Linked DNA regions of Homo sapiens. The protein of the gene in region 5 interacts with the protein of the main gene of each other region in a pairwise test. Each region holds a gene or a part of one and is shown on either strand. Other genes may lie near its edges. The genes, in order: ZNF219, GCSAM, NECAB1, ZCCHC17, AP1M1, EVI5L and ZNF8.

What was found.
Region 1: the proteins of AP1M1 (region 5) and ZNF219 interact in binary tests that used the Homo sapiens proteins (3 or more experiments, as listed by UniProt).
Region 2: the proteins of AP1M1 (region 5) and GCSAM interact in binary tests that used the Homo sapiens proteins (3 or more experiments, as listed by UniProt).
Region 3: the proteins of AP1M1 (region 5) and NECAB1 interact in binary tests that used the Homo sapiens proteins (3 or more experiments, as listed by UniProt).
Region 4: the proteins of AP1M1 (region 5) and ZCCHC17 interact in binary tests that used the Homo sapiens proteins (3 or more experiments, as listed by UniProt).
Region 6: the proteins of AP1M1 (region 5) and EVI5L interact in binary tests that used the Homo sapiens proteins (3 or more experiments, as listed by UniProt).
Region 7: the proteins of AP1M1 (region 5) and ZNF8 interact in binary tests that used the Homo sapiens proteins (3 or more experiments, as listed by UniProt).

Annotation. Positions count from the first base shown.
Region 1 is NC_000014.9:21,095,856-21,100,152, reverse strand, and holds the start of ZNF219 (zinc finger protein 219), read left to right. Parts: upstream 1-1,497; 5' UTR 1,498-1,841; intron 1,842-4,297. UniProt on the Homo sapiens protein: Transcriptional regulator. Recognizes and binds 2 copies of the core DNA sequence motif 5'-GGGGG-3'. Binds to the HMGN1 promoter and may repress HMGN1 expression. Regulates SNCA expression in primary cortical neurons.
Region 2 is NC_000003.12:112,123,249-112,126,748, forward strand, and holds part of GCSAM (germinal center-associated signaling and motility protein), read right to left. Parts: intron 2,007-3,500; coding exon 1,978-2,006; intron 528-1,977; coding exon of another isoform or gene 525-527; coding exon 207-524; 3' UTR 1-206. UniProt on the Homo sapiens protein: Involved in the negative regulation of lymphocyte motility. It mediates the migration-inhibitory effects of IL6. Serves as a positive regulator of the RhoA signaling pathway.
Region 3 is NC_000008.11:90,917,275-90,920,774, forward strand, and holds part of NECAB1 (N-terminal EF-hand calcium-binding protein 1), read left to right. Parts: intron 1-217; coding exon 218-354; intron 355-3,500.
Region 4 is NC_000001.11:31,342,032-31,345,531, reverse strand, and holds part of ZCCHC17 (zinc finger CCHC domain-containing protein 17), read right to left. Parts: intron 1-3,500.
Region 5 is NC_000019.10:16,225,411-16,228,910, reverse strand, and holds part of AP1M1 (AP-1 complex subunit mu-1), read right to left. Parts: intron 2,491-3,500; coding exon 2,364-2,490; intron 1,364-2,363; coding exon 1,221-1,363; intron 775-1,220; coding exon 703-774; intron 142-702; coding exon 1-141. UniProt on the Homo sapiens protein: Subunit of clathrin-associated adaptor protein complex 1 that plays a role in protein sorting in the trans-Golgi network (TGN) and endosomes.
Region 6 is NC_000019.10:7,854,218-7,857,717, forward strand, and holds part of EVI5L (EVI5-like protein), read left to right. Parts: intron 1-1,797; coding exon 1,798-1,851; intron 1,852-2,874; coding exon 2,875-2,907; intron 2,908-3,500. UniProt on the Homo sapiens protein: Functions as a GTPase-activating protein (GAP) with a broad specificity.
Region 7 is NC_000019.10:58,281,955-58,285,454, reverse strand, and holds part of ZNF8 (zinc finger protein 8), read right to left. Parts: intron 1-3,500. UniProt on the Homo sapiens protein: Transcriptional repressor. May modulate BMP and TGF-beta signal transduction, through its interaction with SMAD proteins.

The DNA.
Region 1 (4,297 bases), on a different chromosome or scaffold from region 5:
GGGCTCAAGCCATCCTCCCTGCTTGGCCTCCCAAACTGCTGGGATTACAGGTGTGGGCCACTGTGTCTGTCCTGATAGATATGTTTTTCTACCTATTCGCACCTCAGTTTATTCACTGATAAAAGGGGGCTAACAATATGACTGTGAAGAGTTGTTGATTCAGGGTGGGTGTTTAATAACTATTAGTGGTGCTGATGAGGTCACACCGATAAGTCTGATGCCCATACACTAAAAGTGTTATTCAGAAGGAAGCTGGGGACACATTTCTACAGTCGGAAGCAGAACCAGCTGGGCCCAAATATACTCTATAGATCAAAACAAATCCCAGATCTACCTAGGTGCCCTTGGCAAGTTGCTTAATCTCTCTGTTCCCTTATCTATAAAAGGAAGTTAATAATACCAGTCTCAAGGGGTTGCTTTCAGCATGGAAGAGAGCTTAGCCCAGTACCTGGTACACAAGTGCTCAATGTTAGTGGCTATGATCATCATCACTATTATTATTTCTTGTTGTTGACGATAAGAGGAGACTGCGCCAGAAGACTCTAGAAGTTAGTACGAGGAGGGAGGCAGGGTCCTGGGAGGCAAGTGATCTTTTGTAAGCCACTCCTGCCCCATCAGTGCTGTGCCAACATCGGCGGGTCATTGTATCTACTCTTTTCTTTCCCGGGGAGTGGGAGTCACGTTTTAAAGAGATCCAGAAAACTGCTGTGTGTCTACTCCTCCTCAATTCCCACGTGCATTGATTTTATTTGGTGGCGATGTGAGATGTTGGGCTTGCACTGAGGATCCCCGAGCCTGCAGGCCACTGGGGAAACAGACTTCCTGAAGCCTCATTTTTCTTACTTGTAAATGGGGGCTAATTTAATTATAGAGGGTTATTGGAAAGATTATATACTATTAGATAGGTGAACAGGCATTCAGTAAATATTGACTAAATCTGAGTATACTACTTACCAGTTTGTAGTCTAGACTACAATCGCCTGGAAGGAAGGTACCACTTCTTTCTCATCCCTCACAGCGCTGAGCCCAGTGCCTGGCACTTAGTAAGCACTCAGTAAATATTTGTTGTATTGAAGAGCCATTAAAGTGACTTGAGGAATGGAAAATAGAATTCGAGAGGAAGGCGCAGGAATTGTTTATCAAGAACGGAAAGGACCGAAGAGTAACTTTAATAATGTTTCTTATACGGCCGACATTAACTATCTCTATAATCGCCCCTCCTCCTCCCCCAAAAGAGAGACAGAAATTGTAAGGGAGAGGCTTTGAGATAAAACCCCAGGAAGAACTTCCCGAGTCTGTGCATGTTGGGGCAGAAAGAGCGGCAGAGCCAACTCCTTCCCTGGTATGTCCGGGTTTAGGGAGGGAGGGGCAGTGCTGCTTGGAGGCTGGGGGAAGGACGAGATGACCTTTCAAAATCTCTTCCAGTCTCCTGTTGGAATCCTCTGTGCGCCCCACCCCCGCTCCCTCCCTTCCTCCCTCCCTCCGACAGCGCCCCCCGTCTCCAAACCGCCCGCACCCCGCCCCTGGCGGCCGCCTCTCGCGGCTCCCGGGGTCCCCAGCTCCCTGTCCCCGGAGCCAGAGCCCGGCTCCCGCGCGGCTCCCAGCCCCGCCGCGCCGCCCCCCGCATGCTAATGGCCGGGCCGCCTCCCGCCGCACACAATGCGGGCCAGGGCCGGGGGCGGGGGACCGGGGAGGGGGCGGGGGCCGGGCCGGGGGCGGGGGGGCCGGGGCCCGGCGCATCTCCCCCGGCCCCACGTAACGCTGACGCCCGCGCCGCCGGCCCGCCGCCCGCCGCCGCCGCCGCCGCCGCCGCCCGCTCCGCCGCCGCCCGCCCGGGGCTCGTGAGTAGCCGCTCCCCCGACTCCCGGGCCCCCCCGTCCGCCACCCGGCCCCCGCCCCCGGCCCCCTCCCCCCTCCCGGAGGGGGGGCCCGCTCAGCGCGCCCGGCTCGGAGCAGGTGCAGGGGGCGGGGGCGGGGGAGGGGCGCCGGCTCGGCCCCAAGCAAACTTCGCCCAGAGCTCCTGGGGGGGCGGGGTGGGGGTGGCGGCCTCGGAAGCCTGGAGAGCTGGGGGGCCCCAAGGGAGGGGGGGCCAGGTGGAAGAGCTGGGGGAGCAGACACCAAAGGGAAGGGCCAACGGGGGGGATGTGGCGGGGGAGGTGGCGGGTGTCTTTGTAGGGGCCCGAAGGCAGGGCGCGAGGGACCTGGGGGTGAGGGGCGGCAGAGCCGCGAGCCTGAGTGGATGTGCACCCCCCAACCCCCGGCCCAGGTAGGGCTGGTGGGGGAGGGGGAAGGAGCCCAAACTCTCTGGAAGCACGGGGTGGCGGGGGAGGGGAAAGGATGGGGGGTGCTTCCCTCTTTGCGTCCCAAACAAAGTGTCACAAAGAGCTCGGCCCGCGGCAGCAGCGGAGGCGGCTGTAACTCAGCTTTTGTTCTCCTGGCCGGGGGTAGCTGAGCCTTGGCCTCCCTATCTCCCAACCCTGCCCCCCATCATCCTTCTGGCTTATCTTCCTGGGGAGGGGTCTGGGGTGCTGCTGGAAAAACCTCTCCGGCAGGATAGCAGGTCCTACCCTACTTAGCAATCTATTTCTGGGAGGGGGATTTTCCCAGAGGCTCCCTTGATCGCCCCTACCTCCCAGTCTGAGGACCGAGGCTCACGTGGGTGCTAAGACTGACTTTTCTAGGGTCAGCTCCACTTAAAGGGACTTAGGGCTGGCTACATGCCCCTCTTTCCCAAACCCAGGTCTTCCAGAACTTTCAAAATCAAAATCGGGGTTGCGTTAGGACATGCCTCTGGGATAAGATTCCCCATGGTGGGATGGCAGCAGGTGAGCAGGTGTGCCTTCCTCTCGCCTCCTGCTGTACCTTTGAAGTCCATGGCTGAGGTTCCATGTCCCTAACTCAGGAGAGTGAGGACAGAGGGAAGGAGGCTTTACCAAGATCTCAGTCTAAAAAGGCTGGTGAGCTGCAGAGTGGAGCGGGTTAGGAGGAGCTATCTGAGCAGTGAGGTTCAGAGGGCCATGGAGAGGAGACCATAAAAGTGAACTACTGGTGTGTCTGTGTGATCAAGGTAGTCTTTTGAACGTAGACCGCCCTAGAAGCTCCCTTTCCTTTTAACCCCATCTAGTGCAGTGGTAATCATAATTGTTAGCAGATTTGGGAGGTCTAGGATTCTCAAGAGGGAAAACCATCGTGTTAGAGGTGACCAGAGGCAGTTACAACTGGACCCCAGAAGTCCTGAACCCTTGCTCCTTACACTTTGACCCTAAAAACTTTTGAATCACAAGACTTGAGGGACAGTCTTTGTGGTCCATTTAGCAAATACTTCTATGTACCTGTCCTTGTTGTTTCTAAGTCTTTTCACCAACCATTCCATCCTTCTCTACTGAGTAAGGTTTAGTGGTCCACACCCACTTCCCTACCAGCTGCCCCAGCATGTAAGGATAATTGGCCTACTGCTTTTGAAAGGTTTCTGATATCTATCCCTGGCCCCGCATCCTTATAGAATCCAAATAAGGGCAAGATAACCCCTGATTCCCAGTGGGGGTGGAAAGTAGGTCAGTGCTGCTGTCTGGCCAAGTCTCGAGGATGGTGTTTAAGGCCTGACTATAGAAAACTCTGTGATTATTGTCCAGGGGCAATATATGCATGACCTCGGTTCCAAGGCAGTTCATAGTATCCCAGTCCCTGTCAGTTCTTTCCCCTACTGAGAAAAAAATCATGGGATCAGGTGTCTGGAACCTGGTTTGATATGGAGATGATTCAGATCTTCATTGGGCCTAAGAAGGTATCTCAGTGAGTTTTGTTGATTTTAGGCCACCTTCTGGGGAAACTTTCCGTGCTGGGGAATTCAGCTTCAGTTTGGGCCTTCTTGTATATCACTCTATTTCTGTTCTGGAAACTGCTATGTGCAAAGTGGTTTATTGTTGTTTTGTTTTGGGATAGGAAGCTTTGCCCTTTTCTGACTCTTCTTGCCTCAGATATGAGGCCAGCTTCCTAAGAGATTTTGCTTGCTATCCTACAGACAGTTTTAGGGGCCCTAGAATCTTCTCAGAATGAGAGTATGTGCCCATAGGTTAGTCAGCTATGACCATGCAGTATTCCCAGCCCCCCCGCCCCACGCCTCCACCATCTGCTTCCTCTGAATATACCAGATTGGCTGTACACCAGGATGTTCCGGGAATCCCCAGGAGAGCAACAGAATGTGATGGACCCAAATATGATGCCTCAGTAACTCATTCCAGGATGTACAAACTGTAACTGTCAGGATGCTCCTTATAGCTAATTAAAATTCTTCTAG
Region 2 (3,500 bases), on a different chromosome or scaffold from region 5:
GGTGTTGTTCAGGATAAATGGTTGATCTTTAGATTTTGGCTTTTGCGTGCTAAGAGGGCTTGTGGTATACAAACCATGCTCTGCAGGGAAAGGGTTGTTGTGGGAGATAAGCTGGAGGGACTTTGTGTCCCATCCCTGCTTCAGGCAGATCCCCCATCCCACCTTTTATTTGTTGGTGCTAAACAAATGCTAGTCCAGCCACTTCACTATAAATGGGAAAACTGAGTCTCAGAAGGGGCCATAAGTGGACGTGGCTGTTGCAGAAAGTGAGAGGAGATTCTGTGAGGCATGAGAAGTTCATATTCATCTTCTGGGGATCGGGCATGCCTGGGGTCTGTAGAAGGCATATGTAGAAGTGAATACTCAGTCTCAGTTCCTCCCAAGGACTCTCTGGGTCTCTCAGCTTTGCAGGGAACATTCTCATAGTACTCTTCAGCAGAGTTCCCTGATGGCCTTGTACAGAGAACCCGATGATTGATGAGGGTATAGCACAGCTCCTCTGAGTAGGTCTGGTCAACATTGTCCTGCTTGTCAAAGAAGAACCATCATCAAGATTTGGTCTCTTGCCATGACCTTTACATTTCAGTCTCAACACAGGCTTGACCCTTGGTCAAGTCTGTCTTCTATGACCACCTCCTCCCCATCTCTTGGCCATTTTTTTCTAAATGGCTGCTTCTACCCCAACCACTAGGCTAGCTGCAAGAGTGCTTAAGGTCTAGAGCCTGCTCAGGTGCATCCTCTGCCCCTTGTTCCAGAGTGACCTCTGACCACCTGATATAGTTTGGATATTCGTCCCCTGCAAATCTAATGTTGAAATTTTGTTCCCATTGTTGGAGGTGGTGCCTAGTGAGAGGTGTTTTGGTTATGGGAGCAGATTTCTCATGAATGGCTTAGTGCCATCCTCGCAGTTATGAGTGTACCGCCTGAAGAACCATGAGCCAAATAAACTTCTTTTCTTTATAAATTACCCAGCTTTGCATATTCCTTTATAGCAACACAAGTGGACTAAGACACTACCCATATAATTCCCAGTCTCATGGCTCTGAGGATAGCCCATTCTAATAAAAAAGAATAATCTGGCTGGGCACGGTGGCTCACACTTGTAATCCCAGCACTTTGGGAGGCCGAAGTGGGTGGATCACCTGAGGTCAGGAGTTCGAGACCAGCCTGGCCAACATGGTGAAACCCCATTTCTACTGAAAATACAAAAATTAGCCAGGTGTGATGGCACACACCTGCAATCCCAGCTACTGGGGAGGCTGAGGCTGAGAATCGCTTGAACCCAGGAGGCGGAGGTTGCAGTGAGCTGAGATCGTGCCATTGCACTCCAGCCTGGGTGACAAGAGCAAAACTCTGTCTCCAAAAAATAAATAAATAAATATAAATAATCTTATGATATCTTAATGTGTTTTGGCTGTGATATTTAATTACCCTCTAGAGATATTTATGTTATTAAATAGGGAAGCGACTCAAGGGAAGGTTTCACTTATGATGGGATATCAGGAGATAAAAAGCAAAGCAGCAAAGTACAGGGGGAAAAGCATGGATTGTGAAGTGAGACTTGGTTTTGAATCCTGGTTCCGCCCCCTTTTAGCTATTTGGCTTTGGGGAATTGTCACTTAATCTCTCAGTTTTCTCATCTATAAAATCGGGGGATGGGATGGATTATAGTAGCAATATTCAAGGGTTGTCGTTTTAGCTACATGAGTTGATGTGTGTAAAGCACTCAGCATGTTGTCTGTCATAAATGAAGTGGTCAGTAAATTTAAGTTCCTTTCAATAAATTATACAGCAGAAGTGGCTGCTGCTTCTGCCACCCGGCCCTGCACCTGCCACCCGAGTTCACAAGCACTGACATCTAAAGTCTTTCTCCATGTAAGGGTCAGAAGGGATCTCAGAGGCCAACTTCTCCTGCCATTTAGGGTGTCTGTACTTCTATCATCATCTCAAAAAATAGCTTAGAGATGTTCTTATTACCTGGATGGGAGTAGATGACATTCTTTCATCTGGAGAAAGAAAATACACTCAATGAATTTCAGGTTATGGGGAGATTTGAAGGGAAGAGCAGGGGAGGCTAGAATATAAATAACTAAAAAGCCAAGAAACAGCTGGGGTAGCTCTTCTCAGGCTATTCTGATCTACAGCACATCCCTGGGGAGTGACAGGACATCTAAACAAGTCACAGCTAGAGCTGTGCTCAGCCTGAGAGGTGAGAGGGGGGAGACACATTTGGTTAGTCTTTGGAAAGGAAATCACGATTTCTTCCTCCAGCTCTCTTTCCCTCCTTACCTAGCCCCGTCTCCTTCCTTACACAAAATTGATTTGTGTTCCTTACACAAATTCAGTGCCTCTGCACCAGGCACTGGGGAGACAAAGGAGAATCAGAAACATTCTCTGTCCTCAAAAGGCTCACAAGCTAGCACAGGAGACAGACAAGGGGCTCTGAGAGATCCACACTGTGGAGCAGAGGGCCGTCGTTTCTACTCTAGGTGACGGGATGGTGGTGGTGTGATAATTGGTGTTCAAGGAGTTTTGCAGAGCAGGAAACTCTTAAGCTAAATATTCCCATTCCTATACCTGCTGGCAGATAACAAATGAGCAGGGCGATTTTTCAAAGCCTAGTTAAAACCAAATGGCTCTGGCCATTCAGCAAAGAGGCAAACTGACACCCTTGCTACCCTCTTGCAAACACACCAATTCCATAAACAAACATGTGCCCTCACATGAAAGTCTACAGAGGAAGCTACCATATGGTATATGGATTGACATTCTCTCGGTCCTCACATCCTGGATTTCCACATCTCCATAAGCTCCTATAGGCATCTAAAACTTCCCTGATTATCATTATAAGAAAAGCATCTTCAGCATAGAGTTTTAGCATCTGGTCTTATTTCTATTACGTTTTGCTCTGATGGAAATTGAGGTTCCCTGGGACCCACGACTCCTGGAGTGAAGTGGCTAGGGTGGGAGGCTGTATTATTCATTTACACATCTTGCAGGGCTAGATTTTAAGATTCTATGTAAATGAATTAGGTTCTCCTCTTTAAGGAAGGAAAAGTCAAAACTCTTCCATTTTTCTTCTTCAGAAACACAATGGCTTGTCCTCAGGCCTACACTTTCTTATTTTTATTTTTAGGTGTGATACAATTCATCACACTCTCCTTCTAGAATTCTTTCTCCTTAACTTCAGTGCTATTCTATCACCAGAGACTACTGCACCAGCCTCGTAAGTGTTCTTCTGGTATCTGCTCTTCCGGCTCCTTGCTGCAATTTGTTTTCTGCACAGGAACCTGGGTGATATCTTTAATACAAATCTAATCATACTTGCCCCCGCCTCCCCACTGTGTAAAGCCAGTATCTCCTGCAGCTGTCAGGACAAAGATGAAAATCTTTAACTTGGCCAGGAGGCCCCACCCCTCCCCTATCCCAGGCTGGCTTTCTTGCAGTTTCTTGTAAGTGCCTTTCTCCTCCACCTTTTGTATCCTTGCCCCCAGTTACTG
Region 3 (3,500 bases), on a different chromosome or scaffold from region 5:
ATATTCCAGTCATTTCTGCAGCTTTTTTATTCATCTCCTGGTGGGTGGATGAGAGTGATGCTGTAGCCTCCAGGGCTCGACAGATCTTTTCCCTTCTCTCCACCCTCTCTCTCTAGGATCAATCTGGGATTGATGGGTACATGGTAAAAGAAAAAAAAAAAATCCTGGGTATTTTTTTCTACCATACTTCTAATTGCATTTGTTTTGTCACCCTTAGGACTACCAAGAAGCCTCCAATTTGGAACAATTCGTAACTAGATTTTTATTGAAGGAAACCCTGAATCAGCTGCAGTCTCTCCAGAATTCCCTGGAATGTGCCATGGAAACTACTGAGGAGCAAACCCGTCAAGAAAGGCAATTTACATGTTTTCATCTGATGTCTATTTAGTGACTCTATGTTCATGAAAAAACAATTGAGAGGCATTGTACTTACACTAGCAAAAACTAAAAAAGAGAATTGATATATTTAAAAAGAATGACAGTGACCTCCACTGGTTGCTTGCCTTATTATTTGCCTCTAAAAAGACCATTCTACTTTTTCTTTTACTGTCAGTCATTTAGTAAACTATATATATATATATATATATATATATATATGTGTGTGTGTGCGTGTATATATATGTCTGTGTGTATATATATACACACACACACATATATGTGTATGTGTGTATATATATACACACACACATATGTGTGTGTGTGTATATATATACATATATGTGTGTGTGTATATATATATATTTCTTTTTTTTTGAGATGGAGTCTCACTTTGTCACCCAGGCTTGAGTGCAGTGGCACGATCTTGGCTCACTGCAAACTCTGCCTCCCGGGTTCAAGCAATTCTTGTGCCTCAGCCTCCCAAATAGGTGGGATTACAGGCACACACCACCACGTCCAGCTAATTTATTGTATTTTTTAGAAGAGACGGGGTTTCACTATGTTGATCAGGCTGGTCTTGAACTCCTAACCTCAGATGATCCACCCATCTTGGCCTCCCAAAGTGCTGGGATTACAGGTGTAAGCCACTGAGCCCAGCTGAGTCAACAAATTTTAATTGAAAATTTAGTAGATGGAGAAGACTTTAAAGTATTATGAATAATATAAAGATACATTTAACATAATGTCAATCCTTAAGGAAGCCTAAGTCTATCATATAAATAAGACATGAACACAAAAACTATACTGCAAAGAACAAAGTGATAATAAATACCGTAGAGAAGAGGAAATACATTGCCAATTGTTTTCAGAATATTAAAAGATTAAATATGGATAGAGGGATGGAAGGATGAGAAAGTCAATTTCATGGAGTTTCTCTATTTGAGCTTGTCTTGCAAAATCAAGAGATCAGTGAAAAAGCCTGGTGGGAAGACAAGACTTGAACTGGACCTGTAGGATGAATTTGAATGGCAGAATGAGAGTCTCTCTAGAGGGATCCGTCTCACCCACCTCCTGTTACCCACCTCTCATGTGGCTCACTTCTCTTTGGTTGTCTGGTCACTGATTGGACAGTAATTTCTCTGGGAAGCCTTCACTGCTCATTCATACCTCCCACTTCACTACCGTGTATTCCTATAGTGCCCCCTATTTATATCTACTTATCTCAACCCCTTCCTTGTTAATTTGGTGTAATTTTGAAAATGTGGAAATGATGGGAAAGACCCTTACAGACTACATGAACCTGGATATACTTGGGAGACCTGATAATTCAGTAAGCCTAATTATTTCAGGAAATGGAGAAAAGTGAATGATGGAAATTATTTCAAAATTCAATGCCACCAATAGGTATCACTGAGAAAATAAGTAGTCATATTGCAATAGCTATATAAATAAAGGCACTAATGCTTAAGAGACACCTATACTAAAAATGTGTAGGGCACACATCAAGGTGATCCCAGCCAACAGTTGATATTTTTCTGAGTTGTCATTGCTTATACTTTGCAAGCTAGAGAAGCTTGCAAAACTCTTGCTCCTGGGGCATATTTTGGCAGATGTGTTACTTTAAACTTATAGATGTGCTTTATCTAACTTTTACATCTTAAATTAGAGAGAAGGAAACAGTAAGTTTTCTGAACAGGCTGATAATAGACTACCCTGCAGGACCAATTTTCCTGAACAAATTAACTGATACATAATTATTAGGACATCTCCAAAATAGTGGAATTTTCAACCATGTGTTTACAATGTCAAAATGAGTGAGCACCACCAACTTCTAACAAAAAATCCTGTAATTCCAGAATCTAATGAGCCCATGCAGCTGACTGTCACAGGGAAGTACTCTTTAGCAGATCTGTGAAGCATCCTCTACATCATAAACTTCCTGTTTTCACTGCGTTGGGTGATTCTATACCAAATGGCAAAGTATAACAATTCACTTTAGAAAAGCAAAACCCACCTCCTCAGCTTTGAGCAGAGGATAACTGAATGTCTTGAAGCACAGTGAAATGGATTTCATGTTCCTAATGAGAAAAATGAGGCCTCCTGTGTTGTTTCTTTTGTTTGGACTTTCTGGAAATAAAATGGGAACTCCCTTTTTAGAATCAGTCATCTGCCACCTGAGAAGAGGCTTGAAAAAGTGCTCTACTCCCCTTCTTCACCTGCGCTTTTGTTTTTTTCTACAGTCATCCCCTGAAAACCTGTGCTCTGCATTTACCACCATGCTGTGAATGTTTAATGAACAACTGTTTTCTGTGTTAGGCCACAGGCTAGCCTTGAACTCTTGTGACTGCTGCCAGCAGCTGCCTAGCAGCTGTGCTTAATGAGAAGGAGCATGACAATATAGACTTTAAGGAAAGTAGAAGGCACTAGAGGATTAACGAACCTTTTACTTCTGGATTTCTCACTCAAAAACAGCTTCAAATAATGGGAAATGTTACATGTCTGACTGCAGTTTAAGGGGTGCTGTTGTATGGCATTTGACTAAGACACCCAGGAATGACAAAATCCCACCCCAAATCTGTGATATTCCCCCTGAGAGGTTTATAAAGAAATGCATAAACAAGCAAACAGAAAATAAGGTACCACTATGGATTTATGCCCGTAATATCTGATGAACCAGACTGAAGCACGTGAATTATGCCCAAACCTAAAGGGACTGTGTCTCCTCTCCCAAGGCTATATCTTCCTATCAGCTGGCCACCAAAAGTGAGGAGAGCCCTGGGACCTTCATCAGTGAGGAAAAGATAGAGAGAGAAAAACTATACCTTTCCTATGATGTCAATCAAGAGACCAGTGAAAACGCCTGATGGGAAGACAAGACTTGAAGTGGAACTTTAGGATGAATTTTAATGGCAGAATGAGATTCTCTCTAGAGGGATCCGTCTCACCCATCTCATGTTACCCATCTCTCATCTGGCTCACTTCTCCTCGTCTGTCTTGTCACTGATTGGACAGTACTTTCTCTGGGAAGCCTTCACTGCTCATTTATACTTCCCACCTCATTACCATGTATTCCCATAGTGCCCTCTATTTATATCTACTTATCTCAGCCCCTTCCTTGTTTA
Region 4 (3,500 bases), on a different chromosome or scaffold from region 5:
TATACAGCTCACTTGATTTTTCATAATTTGAACATACCAAAGTAACCAGTACTCAGATCAAAAAACAGAACATTAAGGCTGGGTGTGGTGGCTTATGCCTGTAATCCCAGCACTTTGGGAGGCCAAGGCGGGTGGATCATAAGGTCAGGAGATCGAGACCATCCTGGCTAACAAGGTGAAACCCTGTCTCTACTAAAAATACAAAAAATTAGCCGGGCGAGGTGGCGGGCGCCTGTAGTCCCAGCAACTTGGGAGGCTGAGGCAGGAGAATGGCATGAACCTGGGAAGCAGAGCTTGCAGTGAGCCGAGATTGCGCCACTGCACTCCAGCCTGGGCGACAGAGCGAGACTCTGTCTCAAAACAAACAAACAAACAAACAAACAGAACATTGCCAGCATCTCAGAAGCCCATCTCATGCTCCCTTCTAGTTACCTGCCTCCCCCAAGGGTAATCACAATTCTAATTTCTAACAGTACAGATTCCTTTTACTTAAAAAAAAAAAAAAAATAGCCAGGCATGGTGGCTTGTGTTTGTAGTCCCAGCAACTCGAGAGGCTGAGGCAGGAGGATCACTTAAGCCTGCAAGATTGAGGTTGCAGTGAGCGGACTGCACCACTGTACTCCAGCCTGGGTGACAGAGCAAGACCCTGTCTCCAAAACAAACAAACAACAAAAAAAAACCCATAACAAAGGCAGAAACTTGAGGACATAACTCAAGGAACTCACAAACATGGTTTTTGCTTTCACCTATCTATTTGTAGAGATGAGTTTCAAGTGGCTGTGAGTTGCAGCTTAAGCAACCCCCATGACAATCAATTCCAATACTCTGTGGCTTCTACCAGACTACAAACCAAATCATACTTCCCACTTAACACTCAATTCAACAAATGTGTCAGTCACCCACGTCTCTCTTTTTGTCCTCATTGCCATCATTCTAGTTTAGGCTCCCATCATGTTTCATCTAGAGTAATAACTCCCTCACTGGTCTCCCTGCCTCCAGTTTTCTTCCTCCAATCCATCCCAGCACAGATTCTGAGATTAATCTCATTTTTTCAGTACAGCTAGTAAGTGGATAACGCCAGTGCTAATACTAGTGATAGTAATAATTATGTATACCAAAACGAACAAAACATGATTCTTTTCTGGAAAGAACTAATAGTCTGGCAATGGAGGGAGACATACAAATGAAAAATTTTAACAGAGTTAAGTCATATGTGCTTTTTCTAAAGACTACCCTATGGACCAGCAGTTGTGGCTCACACCTATAATCTCTCAGCACTTTGGAAGGCCAAGGTGGGAGTATCACTTGAGACCAGGAGTTCAAGATCAGCCTGGGCAACACAGCAAGACGTCATCTCTACAAAAAATTTAAAAATTAGGCCAGGCATGGTGGCTCACATCTGTAATCCTAGCACTTTGGGAGGCCGAGACAGGAAGATCACCCGAAGTTAGGAGTTCAAGACCAACCTGACCAACATGGAGAAACCCCGTCTCTACTAAAAAAACAAAAATTAGCCGAGCATAGTGGTACATGCCTGTAATCCCAGCTACTCGGGAGGCTGAGGCAGGAGAATTGCTTGAACCCAGGAGGTGGAGGTTGCAGTGAGCCGAGATCGTGCCACTGCCTCCAGCCTGGGCAACAAGAGTGAAACTCTTGTCTCAAAAAAAAAAAAAAAAAAAAAAAAATTAGTGGGGCATGCTGGCATGGACCTATAGTCTTGGCTACTTGGGAGGCTGAAGGAGGAGGATCACTTGAGCCTAGGAATTTGAGGTTGTAGTGAGCTATGATCACTACACTCCAGCCTGGGAGACAAAGACCCTGTCTCAAAAAAAAAAAAAAAAAATTATATACTACACTCAATTCTGATCTTGATCATAATAAAAAAGAAAAAGACTGTACTTTGCAGGCTATGCCTAATTGGAAACTGCTTTTAGCCCCTTTCCATTTACAGAGTCACTTATTAGATTATCTCATTAACACTTTGGGACCTGAGGGGATGAATATAAGAGTTAGATTTTTATGGAAAATGAAAGGTGGCTAACAAACTATGGATGGCTGAAGACAGGATGAGAATACTGAGCATAACAGGGCAAGGCCAGACAATGGGATTCCTGGGGAGGTTAATCTGACGAGAAGCCTCTCTGTCCAAAGGCTTTTTTAAAAAAATTCATGGGCTGGGTGTGATGGCTCACGCCTGTAATCCCAGCACTTTGGGAGGCCAAGGCAGGCGGATTACTTGAGGCCAGGAGTTCAAGACCAGCCTGGCCAACATGGTGAAACCCCGTCTCTACTAAAAATACAAAAATTAGCCGGGCGCAGTGGTGGGCACCTGTAATCCCAGCTACTCAGGAGGCTGAGGCAGGAGAATTGCTTGAACCTGGGAGGCAGAGATCATGCCACTGTACTCCAGCCTGGGTAACAGAGCAAGAGTCCATCTCAAAAAATAAATAAATAAAAATTCATATTCTTTAACTGATATTCATGGCTCTCCACAATCTGACCCTAAATTATCTTTCAAGCCTTCCATTCTAGTACTTGACCATATCCTCTTCTTTCCTTAAACAAGGTTCCCAAATGTACTATGTGCTTTTCTGCCTCATTCCTTTCCTCAAACCATTTCTTTTGCCTGAAATACCATTCCTTCCCCTGCTGTCTGACAAGATCTTATCTGTTCTTCAAAACCTAACTCAAATACCACCTATTCTCTGACCATCAAGGCCTGAAGTAAACTATTCCTCCTCAAGTGAATTCCTAGAACCCTTTCTTTAAACAGGGAGTCCCTAACCCCCAGGCCACAGACTGCTACTGGTCCATGGCCTGTTAGGAACCAAGCTGCATAGCAGGAGGTGAGCAGCAGGTGAAGGAGCATTACCACCTGAGCTCCGCCTCCTATCAGATCAGCAGCAGCATTAGATTCTCATAGGAGTGCAAACCCTATTGTGACCTGCACATGTGAGGGATCTAGGTTGCGCACCCCCTATGAGAATTTAATGCCTGATGATCTAAGGTGGAACGGTTTCATCCCAAAACCATTCCAGCCCCCTATCCATGGAAAAATTGGTCTTCCACAAAAGTAGTCCTTGGTGACAAAAAGGTCGGGGACAACTGCTTTAAACTACTCTTTTAGTATTTATTACAAGTTGCCTTATATTTGTTGAACAAATGAGTAAATGAAAGTACTAACTAGGGCTGAGCGGTAGTGGCTCATGCCTGTAATCCCAGCACTTTGGGAGGCTGAGGCGGGGGATCACTTGAGGTCAGGAGTTTGACACCTGCCTGGTCAACATGGTGAAACCCCGTCTCTACTAAAAATACAAAAATTAGCCAGGCATGGTGGACTATGCCTGTAATCCCAGCTACTCGGGAGGCTGAGGAATGAGAATTGCTTGAACCCAGGAGGCAGAGTTGCAGTGAGCCACGATTGTACCACTACACTCCAGCCTGGGTAACAGAGTGAGACTCCATCTCAAAAAAACTAAATGAATACTATGGATGCTATA
Region 5 (3,500 bases):
CCACACGATCTCGCTGTTCTCGGGGACCCACTTAACGCTCCCCACCGTCGTCTTGAACTTGGGTGAGTCGGCATCATTGGGCACGGGAATGTGGATCTCCACGTTGTTGGCTGTTGACCGCCGCTTGAACTGGCTTTTGGCCTGCAGGCCAGGCCAATGCGGCCCGGGGTTATGGAGGCCAAGGTGAGCTGGCCAGCCTCTCCAGGACACATGCCCCTCAGCCTGGCCCGGGGGATCCTCCCTAGCCCCGCCCCTGGCCCCACTTCTCCAGGCACTACCCACCCCTTCTCCTGCCCTCGAGACTCTCCCAAGACCTAATTTCAGGAGTTTCATCTTCATCCTCCTGTCTGCTCAGCTTCCAAGGCTCCTCATCCCTCCCTCTGCCCTGCCCTCCTAGGACAATGTCTATGTCCCAGGGCCAGGCTGCGCTGGACAGGGTCGCTGAGGGGCAGAGGTGCTCCACCTGGGGGCAACACCTCTGGGAGTGTCCTGGATGCCTGGCTACAGGCCCCTCCCCACAAGTGGCACCATCTAGGAGCAGGCCCCAGGCGGTGTCCCCTCAGTGTCAGGTCACTCCTGCATCTGAGGCCACAGTGAGGGTGCACGGATGGCAGCCCTACGGCACCCCCAGCCCTCGGTTAGGCTCCTGGGACGGGCCAGAGACACCAGAAGGCCCTCAGTGGGTGGCCTCGGCCCACGCACCTTGATCATGTACTCGATGCGGCTGTGGGAGTGCTTCTCGATCACCGACTCGATCCATATCAAAGGCTTGACCTGCCAAGGAGGGCAAAGAGGGTGCTCACACCTGGCCTTGTTTGACAAAGGCCCATTTCAGAGGGGAAACCAAGGCCCAGGGCAAGGGACCATCTGCCCAGGTGTGGGCCCAGAGCCCTGCAGGGAGCGTACAGCCAGCGTCAGGGAGGGCCAGGGCAGACAGGCCGAGGTAGCCGGGAGCTACCGGGGAGGCCTTGGGGCAAATGCAGAAAACATGACCAGGGCCTGCTCTGGGGGCTGCCTGGGAAAGGGGTGGTGGTGGCCAAAGGGGTCTGTGCCCCTCAGAAAGCTCGGAGTCCCAAGTCCTCAGACTCCATCTCTGCAGAGCCAGGCAGCTCATGGAGCGTGGGGTGGGGCTGGCCCTGGCGCCTGCCTGGGCTTCACCTCCTGGAGGTGAAGGGGAGGAGGAGTCTGCCGACAGCCCAGCCCCAGGGTGGCGCACTCACGTGGGTGTTGAGACGGTAGGACATGAGCTCGAACTCGCCGTCGGGTGGGATGAAGGAGATGGTGCGGTCATTCTCGAAGCGTGATAGCCGCACACACTGGTGGAACTTCACATCCTCCAGCTCCACGGATTTGCTTTTGCCGCCTGGGGTCAGGGGTGAGGGTAGGACAGATCTGGGCCCTCCGGGTCACTATCTCAGCAGTACTCCTACCACCTGCAACCCACCCCGGCAGAGCAGGGCCCCCAGTCCACGCACTGAGAGCAGCCTGGGCCACAAACACCAAGGGGGCTGGGTCCCAAGACAACTGCCCCATCACTCCTCACACCCCTGGGGTCCCCAGGGGCAGGGCTGGTGGGTCTGGTTCATGCTGAGTCCCCAGCGGCCATCCCAGGGCCCAGCCAGGGGACCTGCTCAGGACACGTTCACTGAATGATTGATCAGTGGACTTGGCTGGGGGATGGCTCGGGGCTCCCCAAGGGCTCAGGCCCTGGCATCCACGGGGTCCTGGGTCCTACCTTGGTTTGCCACCTCACTGAGGGCTATGTGGGTGGGGCCCTGCCCAGCCCCAGGCGGGGAGCTGCCCTGATAGACTGATGCCCGAGAAGCCCTCACCGGGCTAGGAACGGGGGCATGCCCAGCCACTGCACCCTCTTCCAGTGGCCTGTGACAGCTGAGTGGGAGGCACAGTTCACAAAACCAGGCCCTGGGCCCCTCTGCCCCCGCCCTGCTGTGGGAAGTGTTAGAGGCCAGGCGGCGGGAGCGAGAATCACCATGCGTGGCCTTCACACGGCCCACACCTAGGGCCCAAGGTGAGGGGAGAAACCTGGCCTGGGAGGGAGAGAGCAAGGCCTTAGCCTAGGCCCCAGTGCCCCAGGCAGAGCAGGGCAGGGTGCAGGACCTGGCGTGTGAGGCCGGGTGACGGGGGCCTCCCAGCTGGACTGGAGGATCTTCACTCCCCTGCACCTTCTATGTCCAGGGAAGGATGAATACTCTACACAGCTGTCTCAAGCAGTGTGAAGTGCTGCTCAACCAAGTGCTTGAAACCAGCTCGTTCCTCCGCCTGGCCCAACCCTGCCCTAGGCTGTAATGTGTGTGCCTGGTGAGGCCATCCTCATGGGCAGGGCCCTTGGCAAGGGTACTCACGGCCCGTGTTGTCAAAGAGGACCTTGTCGTTGAGGCCCAGGCGCAGCTCGGGCATGCCCGAGAGGAAGACTCGCATCTTGATGGAGCCCACGATCTCGCTGCGCAGGACATTGCCGTTGGCGCTGACCTGGGGGTGGCGGTGTGGGCGTGAGGGGAGGTCCCCAACTCACCAGCCACTGCCTCCTACCACATCATGTGACCCTCTGGCCACCCCACTCTCAACGCCCTTCTCACCTCCAAGCCCATCCCTCTCCTGGGCATCCCCTGAGCTGGGAGAGTCCCAGCTGTGGCTAAGGTCTACCCCTAACCCACACCAACCCACGCCTGGCTGAGGGTCCCCAGGCTCACCCCTCCAGCCTTCATGCCGAGGCCCTGTGGACATGAGGTGGACACTGTGGGTCCTGCCCTCTAGGCCTCAGGCCACACTGGGACCTGATGATGCGTGCCTGGAGCCCCCTCTGAGGGTTCTCTATCAGGTACCAGTCCCTCCCTCCCAGGAGCCCCCTGAATGCTCCGGGCCGGCCCGGCAGCTGGTCCCCACGCTGAGTCAGCTTTGAGAGTCCATGAGCTCGGCTGGACCTGGGCCAGGACCCTGTGGTCCCTGCTCAGCCGATGGGCTGGGCTGGGCTGGGGTCTCTTGAACCAGGCCAGACTTGCTTTTCTTGAAAGCTGTTTCTCCTCTTGGCCTCCCAGGGAGGCCACTGGCCCCTCACCCCCCAGGGCTTATGAGAGATGGTGCTTCCTGAGTCCTGACCCCTTCTTGCTTCTCAGGGCCACCCTGAAGTGTGATAACACTTGATCCAAAATAATCAACTTAAATCCAGTCACAGTGGCTAACACTGACAGCATTTCCACTGCGCCAGGCATTGCTCCACACACGCCTCGACAACCTCTGGGGCAGGGACTGTGGGGAGATGACCTGAGGGGCTGTAACCCACTGCGCATGCCGAGATGCATCTGAAAGTGCAACTGAAAATCCACACCGGGGCGACGGTCCTGCACCCCCTAGCCTGTCCTGCGTGAGCCAAGATGCTGGAGCATCTCTTCTTGCATCCATTTTAGAGGTGAGGAAACAGGCACAGATCAGAGGCCCCGTGCTGAGGGCACAGAGTGACTGGCAGAAGAATCGCTGGGGCT
Region 6 (3,500 bases), 8.4 Mb from region 5:
GTTACAGTGAGGCAAGATTGTACCGTTGCACTCCAGCCTGGGCGACAGAGTGAGACTGTGTCTCAAAAAAAAAAAAAAAAGAAAAGAAAAGAAAAAAAACATTTATTGAGCACCTGCTGTGTGCCAAAGTCACAGCTGAGACTGAGGGCGCACCAGTGATAGGAAGGGACACAGACACAAACCCAACACAGCCTGGCTCCATGCTCTTCAGGGGCAGAGCCGCACAGTGGCTAACACTGGAGTCCAACAGACAAGGATTCAATTCCAGCTCCAGCGGCACAGTGGCTCACACCTGTAATCCCAACACTTTGAGAGGCTGAGGTGGGAGGGTGGCTTGAGGCCAGGAGTTGGAGACCAGTCTGGGCAACATAGCAATACCCCGTCTTTACAAAAATATAGAAATAAATACAAAAGGTGTGCCCAGCTCCTGCAAGGATGGCTGTGCTTGGTGCTGTGATGGGTTGAAGCCAGAGAGATGATAGGGAAACCCAGGGGCCAGGGATCAGGGCTCCAGATTGCTATGAGGACCAGAGACCTGAAATAGCTCTGACCCAGCTGAACTGAGGGACTAGGGCAATGCCCTGCCCCACTCTGACTCAGTTTCCCCACATGACATGCATCAATGACTGTCAAGTCTGCGGTTCTGTCTGACTGCATTTGCTTCCTGGGAATGTTCTAGGTGTTTCCATCACCTTTTCTCCCCAGAAGAAACCCAGGAAATATTCTGTGTGACCTGCAGTGTGGCAGGGCCCTCACTCACCTGCCAATCCAAACAATTTCTGTACCACCTTAGTATCAAGCAAGGGGGCACAGGTACAGTCGAGATTCAACTCGTTTGCAAACCTCACCTGCTCCCCAGAGTGTCCTGGGGGAACCTAAAGTGCAAATATCTTTTTCTTTTTTTTTTTTTTTTTTTGGAGATGGAGTCTTGCTCTGTCACCCAGGCTGCAGTGCAGTGAGGTGATCTCGGCTTACTGCAACCCCTGCTCCCGGGTTCAAGTGATTCTCCTGCCTCAGCCTCCCCTGTAGCTGGGATTACAGGCATGCACCACCACGCCTGGCTAATCTTTGTGTTTTTAGTAGAGGCTGGTCTCGAACTCCTGACCTCAGGTGATTTGCCTGCCTCGGCCTCCCAAAGTGCTGGGATTACAGGCGTGAGCCACTACACCTGGCCTAAAACCGCAAATATCTAGCCAAAATCCATCAGCACAGAATGGAAGGCAGGAGCAAGGGAGACGTCTTCGAAACCCCAGCCAGGGAACAGAGAAAACCACTGGGGACAGGTTGCTCTCAGCAGGTCATGGGAATGTAGTTGTCGAGAAAGGATGCATGATCAGCACGCTGGACCCAGACTCAAAGAGGAGCCTGCCCCCGGAATTGAACCCGGGTGCTTGGGGCAAAGCAGCGAGGGGTGGGTGGTGGCTGCTCGACAGCTGCTTCCCCCACTGATTCCCGCACAACCCTTGGCAGACTGACCCACGTGTGGGAAGGAGTCTTCTGAGGGGGCGTGGGTACTGACTGGCCCCCAAACACACACACAGCCACGAAGGCACTGACGTTATTTTTACTGAACCCAGGTTTGTTTTAAAACTTTATTTTTTTGTAATCAAGCCAGTCTGAACAGGAATTGGCCCTGTTTTCTGAAATCGCTGACCCAGAACGTAAGATGCTGGCTGTGCCCTGCCCGGAAAAGTGGCCTGGCCCTAAGGGGACTGACCCCGGCAGTGGGTAAATGAGGGGTGCATGTAGACAGGCGTGGGGGGCGGGCTATGACGTGATCTCCCCCCACCCCCATAGAGACTTCGGACGGAGAACCGGCTCCTGAAACAGCGGATTGAAACCCTAGAGAAGGTGAGGGGCGTGGCCACTGTGAGGACATGGTCGCCATGGGGTGTGACCCACCATGCGGGGCATGGCCGCTAACCTGGGGTGGACTCCTCCAAGTCTTCTCCTCTCTGGAGGACTAAGCAGCCCTACCTTCCTGCCCCAGGACCCGACCTGAACCCGATTTGGAGTGCCCTGCAACTGGGGGCGACTCGTATGGTGATTAATCCTGGAGTGGGGGCGAGTTACAACCCAGTGGCCTGCAGCCACGGGAATCCATTTGTGTTCTGTGCCCTCCCCGGCTGCACAGACGGGGAGGGGTGAGGAGGAGGGAGAACTGCCACTTTGATGGACGAGCCCCGTAATTGGGCCACAAGCCACCCCACCCTGTAATTTGGAAGTCTTGCCCTCAAAAGAAAGGAAAGGAAACCCAGTGGAGGAGAAGCGTGGCGCCATGGTGGGGAGCCACAGCCCGGACTCTGCTCCCCAACATGCTAAAGATGGGGGTGGAATTGGGGGCTCACTGAGCCCCAGCCCCGGGAGCCCCCAATTCCTGCTCCTCACTCGTCCTCACTTGACCCTCCACTGGCCACAGGAAGTGGGTTGGCAGCCGGATTTGGTTGCCCTCACCCCAAAGCCTTGTTCTGCCTTAAAATTACAACGCACCCCCTCCTCTCCCACTCTCCAGGAGGTCCGCACGAAGCCAAAAGTCCCCCTGCCCCCCACAGTTTTTCCAGCCAGCAGCGGCCCGGCTGACCCTGGAGGGTGGGACAGTGGGTTTCCCAGCCCTGCGGCCTCCCCCACAGCCGCGGGCACCCCCGACCTCCCCGCTCACACCGAACCCCTCTCCAGGACGGAGCTGGCTCTAGCTTTGGTCTTCCTCCGGGTCCTCTCCTGCTGGTTCTCTGGTCTTCCCTCCTCTCTCCCCCGCTTCTAGAGATAGTCCACTGCGTTAGTGACAAGTGGTTCTTGTCTGTCTCCCCTCTCCTGTCCCCGCGCCTTCCGCTCTGCCTCCTCCCCCTGTCGCTGGGAACCCCCTTCGCCGGGTAGGAGAGCGCTGCTCTGGCTGATAGGTTAATCCAGGTACTGTAGCTTTTTATCCCCTCTCCGGATTCCTTCCTGGCCCCTTCCCTGCACCCTGCACATGACAGCCAGTAACCGCCTCTTCCCTGCCATTCTGCGGGCAGGCCTGGCGCCATGCATGGAGCAGCTGGGGACCGCTTCTGGGGGACACAGAGGCTTCCCGGGGGGGCGGGGCATGTGAAGTGGGGAGAAGGGTGTGTGTGGAGGGGCTGTGAGTGCGTTTGGGTGTGAATGTCCACATGCATGTACAGAAAGCTTCCTCCGGGCGACACAGGGTGGGGACCCAGGAGGGCTGGGGAACCTAAAACCATATTCACATAAGGCCCTGGTGTGTGCAGTGCTGCGGTCACACACACACACAACACATGCACACACACACACGCACACACACGCCCGGCCCTCACGCTGCTGCTCTCTGCTCCTACCTGCAATGCCTGCTACCACCTTCTCTAGCTCACCTGCTCCTGCTGCCACCTCATCTTGAATGGCTTTATCTGGAAGCTGCCACCCGCCACCTGGTGGCTTTGAGCCTGGAATGGGGGGCCCAAGTTGGGTAGGGGACAAAGATGAGGTGGGGGAAAAAAGGGGGTCTT
Region 7 (3,500 bases), about 42 Mb from region 5:
CCAGCAGAGACTGGCCTAAACCACTTATTTGCAGGTTTGTGAGCTAAAGAAACAGTTACTGTTTTAAGTAAAACAGATACTGTTTTAGGACAGTGTTACACAGCAGCTAACTAATACACTCACTAATACTTAGATACAAAGTGAAATTGGCTGGGCCACATGCCTGTAATCCCAGCTACTTGGGAAGCTGAGGCAGCAGAATCGCTTGAGCCCAGGAGGTGGAGGTTGCAGTGAGCCAAGACACCACTGCACTCCAGCTGAGGCGACAGAGTGAGACTCCATCTCAAAAAAAAAAAACAAAAAAACAGGTTCACCATCCTTCCTGAAAAGAGAAGCACACAGGGCTGGGGTCAGAAATTCGCCTGCTTTCAGGGCAAGGCAGGCTCACATGACAGAAGTGGGCCAGTTTAAGAGCCCACAAGGACACTTACCTATGAGTGGTGGGACTGGAGGTGATGGGGAGCATGGACCCTGTCTGAAGGAGCAGCAGGGACTCAGAACTCACTGATTACGGGAAAATACAGGTCCCTTTGTCAGAACTGCTCATCTCTGAAGAGAAGCTGAAAATTAGGTCAGATTTTTATGTGAAAAATTATTTTTCTTTTTGAGGTAGAGTCTTGCTCTGTCACCCAGGCTGGAGTGCAGTGGTGCCACCTCCACTTACTGCAACCTCTGCCTCCCAGGTTCAAGTGATTCTCCTGCCCCAGCCTCCGTAGTAGCTGGGACTACAGGAGCGCACCACCACGCCCGGCTAATTTTTGTATTTTTAGTAGAGATGGGGTTTTACCATGTTGGCCAGGTTGGTCTCGAACCCCTAGCCTCAAGTGATCCACCCGCCTCGGCCTCCCAAAGTGCTGGGATTACAGGCGGGAGCCGCCGCGCCTGGCCTTTACGTGAAAAATTCTGATTTTTATAAGTTGATGCAACATTACCTAAAATGTGTCCCATAAACAAAGCCCTTCTGCAGCCATGCTTGAAAGCCAGATATTTCTGGATCAGAGTCTTGGCTCAGTCACTTCGTCCCCAAGAAGCATCTTTGCTTCCCAGTTTCCATGTCAACAAAGCATCACCCCTTGGGGGCTGTATAATGATTAAGTGGTTTACAAACACTTCCTACAGGACATCTGGATAGCCACATGGAAAAGAGTAAAGATAGTCCCTGTCCCAGCATATTTTCTGTTGCTGTAACAGAATATCACAGACTGAATAATTTATTATTTTTTTTTTCTCGAGATGGGAGTCTCACTCTGTCAATCAGGCTGGAGTGCAGTGGCACAATCTTGGCTCACTGCAACCTCTGCCTCCCGGATTCAGTTGATTCTCCTGGCTCAGCCTCCTGAGTAGCTAGGACTACAGGTGCACGCCACCACACCCAGCTAATTTTTGTATTTTTTAGTAGAGACAGGGTTTCTCCATGTTGGCCAGGCTGGTGTCGAACTCCTGACCTCAAGTGATCCTCTCGCCTTGTCCTCCTAAGGACGAAGTAATTTATAAAGAAAGTTGCTTTTTTTCTCTCTCTCTCTTTCAATAACTTTGATGAAGACAGTTTATTTGTGGGCTGGGAGCGGTGGCTCATGCCTGTAATCCCAGCACTTTGGGAGGCCGAGGCGGGCAGATCACGAGGTCAGGAGATCGAGACCATCCTGGCTAACACGATGAAACCCTGTCTCTACTAAAAATACAAAAAATTAGCCGAGCGTGGTGGTGGGCGTCTGTAGTTCCAGCTACATGGGAGGCTGAGGCAGGAGAATGGTGTGAACCCGGGAGGCAGAGCTTGCAGTGAGTCAAGATTGCGCCACTGCACTCCAGCCTGGGCAACAGAGTGAGACTCCGACTCAAAAAAAAAAAAAAAAAAGAGTTTATTTCTTACAGTTCTGAAGGCTGGGAAGTCTAATATCATGGTACTGGCATCTGGTGAGGGCCTTCTTGTTATGACATAAGATGGTGGAGGGCATCACATGGCGAGAGGGCAAGAGTGTGCCAGCTCAGGTCTCTCTCTCCTTCTAAAGCCACTAGTCCCATCAAGGGAGTCCAATCCTGATAACCTTATCTAATCCTAAATTTCTCCCAAAAGTCGCCACCTTCAAATACTATCAACACATGAAATTTGGGAGACACATTCAAACTAACACAGACTTCTATCTTATATCATATATAAAAATTAACTCAAAACAAATTAGGCTGGCTGGGCAGAGTGGCTCATGCTTGTAATCCCAGCACTTTGTGAGGCTGAGGCAGGCAGATCACTCGAGTCCAGGAGATCAAGACTGGCCTGGGCAACATGGTAAAACCCTGCCTCTACAAAAAAAATTTGAAAAAAATTAGCCAGGCTGCCTGTAGTCCCAGCTACTTGGGAGGCTGATGTAGGAGGAGTGCTTGAGTCTGGAAAGTGGAGGTTGCAGCAAGCCAAGATCATGCCACCGCACTCCAGCCTAAGCAACCAGAGTGACATCCTGTCTCAAAGAAAAAAAAAAGAAGAGAAAAAAAAGAAATAAAATAAAATAGAAACAAAGCCATAAATGTAAGAGGCTGGGCGCAGTGGCTCACGCCTGTAATCCCAGCACTTTGGGAGGCTGAGACGAGTGGATTGCCTGAGCTCAGGAGTTCGTGACTAGCCTGGGCAACATGGTGAAACACCATCTCTACTAAAATATCAAAAATTAGCCGGGCGTGGCAGCGTGCTCCTGTAGTCCCAGCTACTTGGGAGGCTGAGGCAGGAGAATTGCTTGAACCCAGGAGGCAGAGGTTGCAGTGAGCCGAGATCATGCCATTGCACTCCAGCCTGGGCGACACAGTGAGACTCCATCTCAAAAAAAAAAAAATTAAATTAAATTAAAAGTAAGAGCTAAAACTATAAAACTCTTAGAGGAAAACAGAGAGATAAATCTTTGTAACCTTGGATTTGGCAAGGGATTCTTAGATATGAAACCAAAAGGATAAGCAACTAAATGTAATCAATTGGACTTCATCAAAACAAAAACTTTTGTAGTTCAAAGGACATTAGCAAGAAAGTGAAAAGACAACTCACAGAATGGGAGATAATAATTGGGAATCACATATCTGATAAGAGACTTGTATCTAGAATATGTAATGAACACATACAACTCAGTAATAAAAAGACAACCCAGTTAAAATAGGCAAAGAATCTGTATAGTTATTTCTTTGAAGAATATATAAAAGAAGATACACAAATGGCAAATAAGTACATGAAAAGATGTTCAACATCATTAGTCATCAGGGAAATGAAAAATCAAAACTATACACCACCAGTGTTGCTGCTAGGTTAAAAAACAAAACAAAACCACATATACTAAATACTTCAATTTTTTTATTTTTTATTTTGAGACAGGGCCTCACTCTGTTGACCAGGCTGCAGTGCAGTGGTGCAATCTCGGTTCACTGCGACCTCCATCTCCCTGGTTCATGTGATTCTCCCACCTCAGCTTCCCAAATAACTGGGATTACAGGCATGTGCCACCAAACCCAGCTAATTTTTGTAC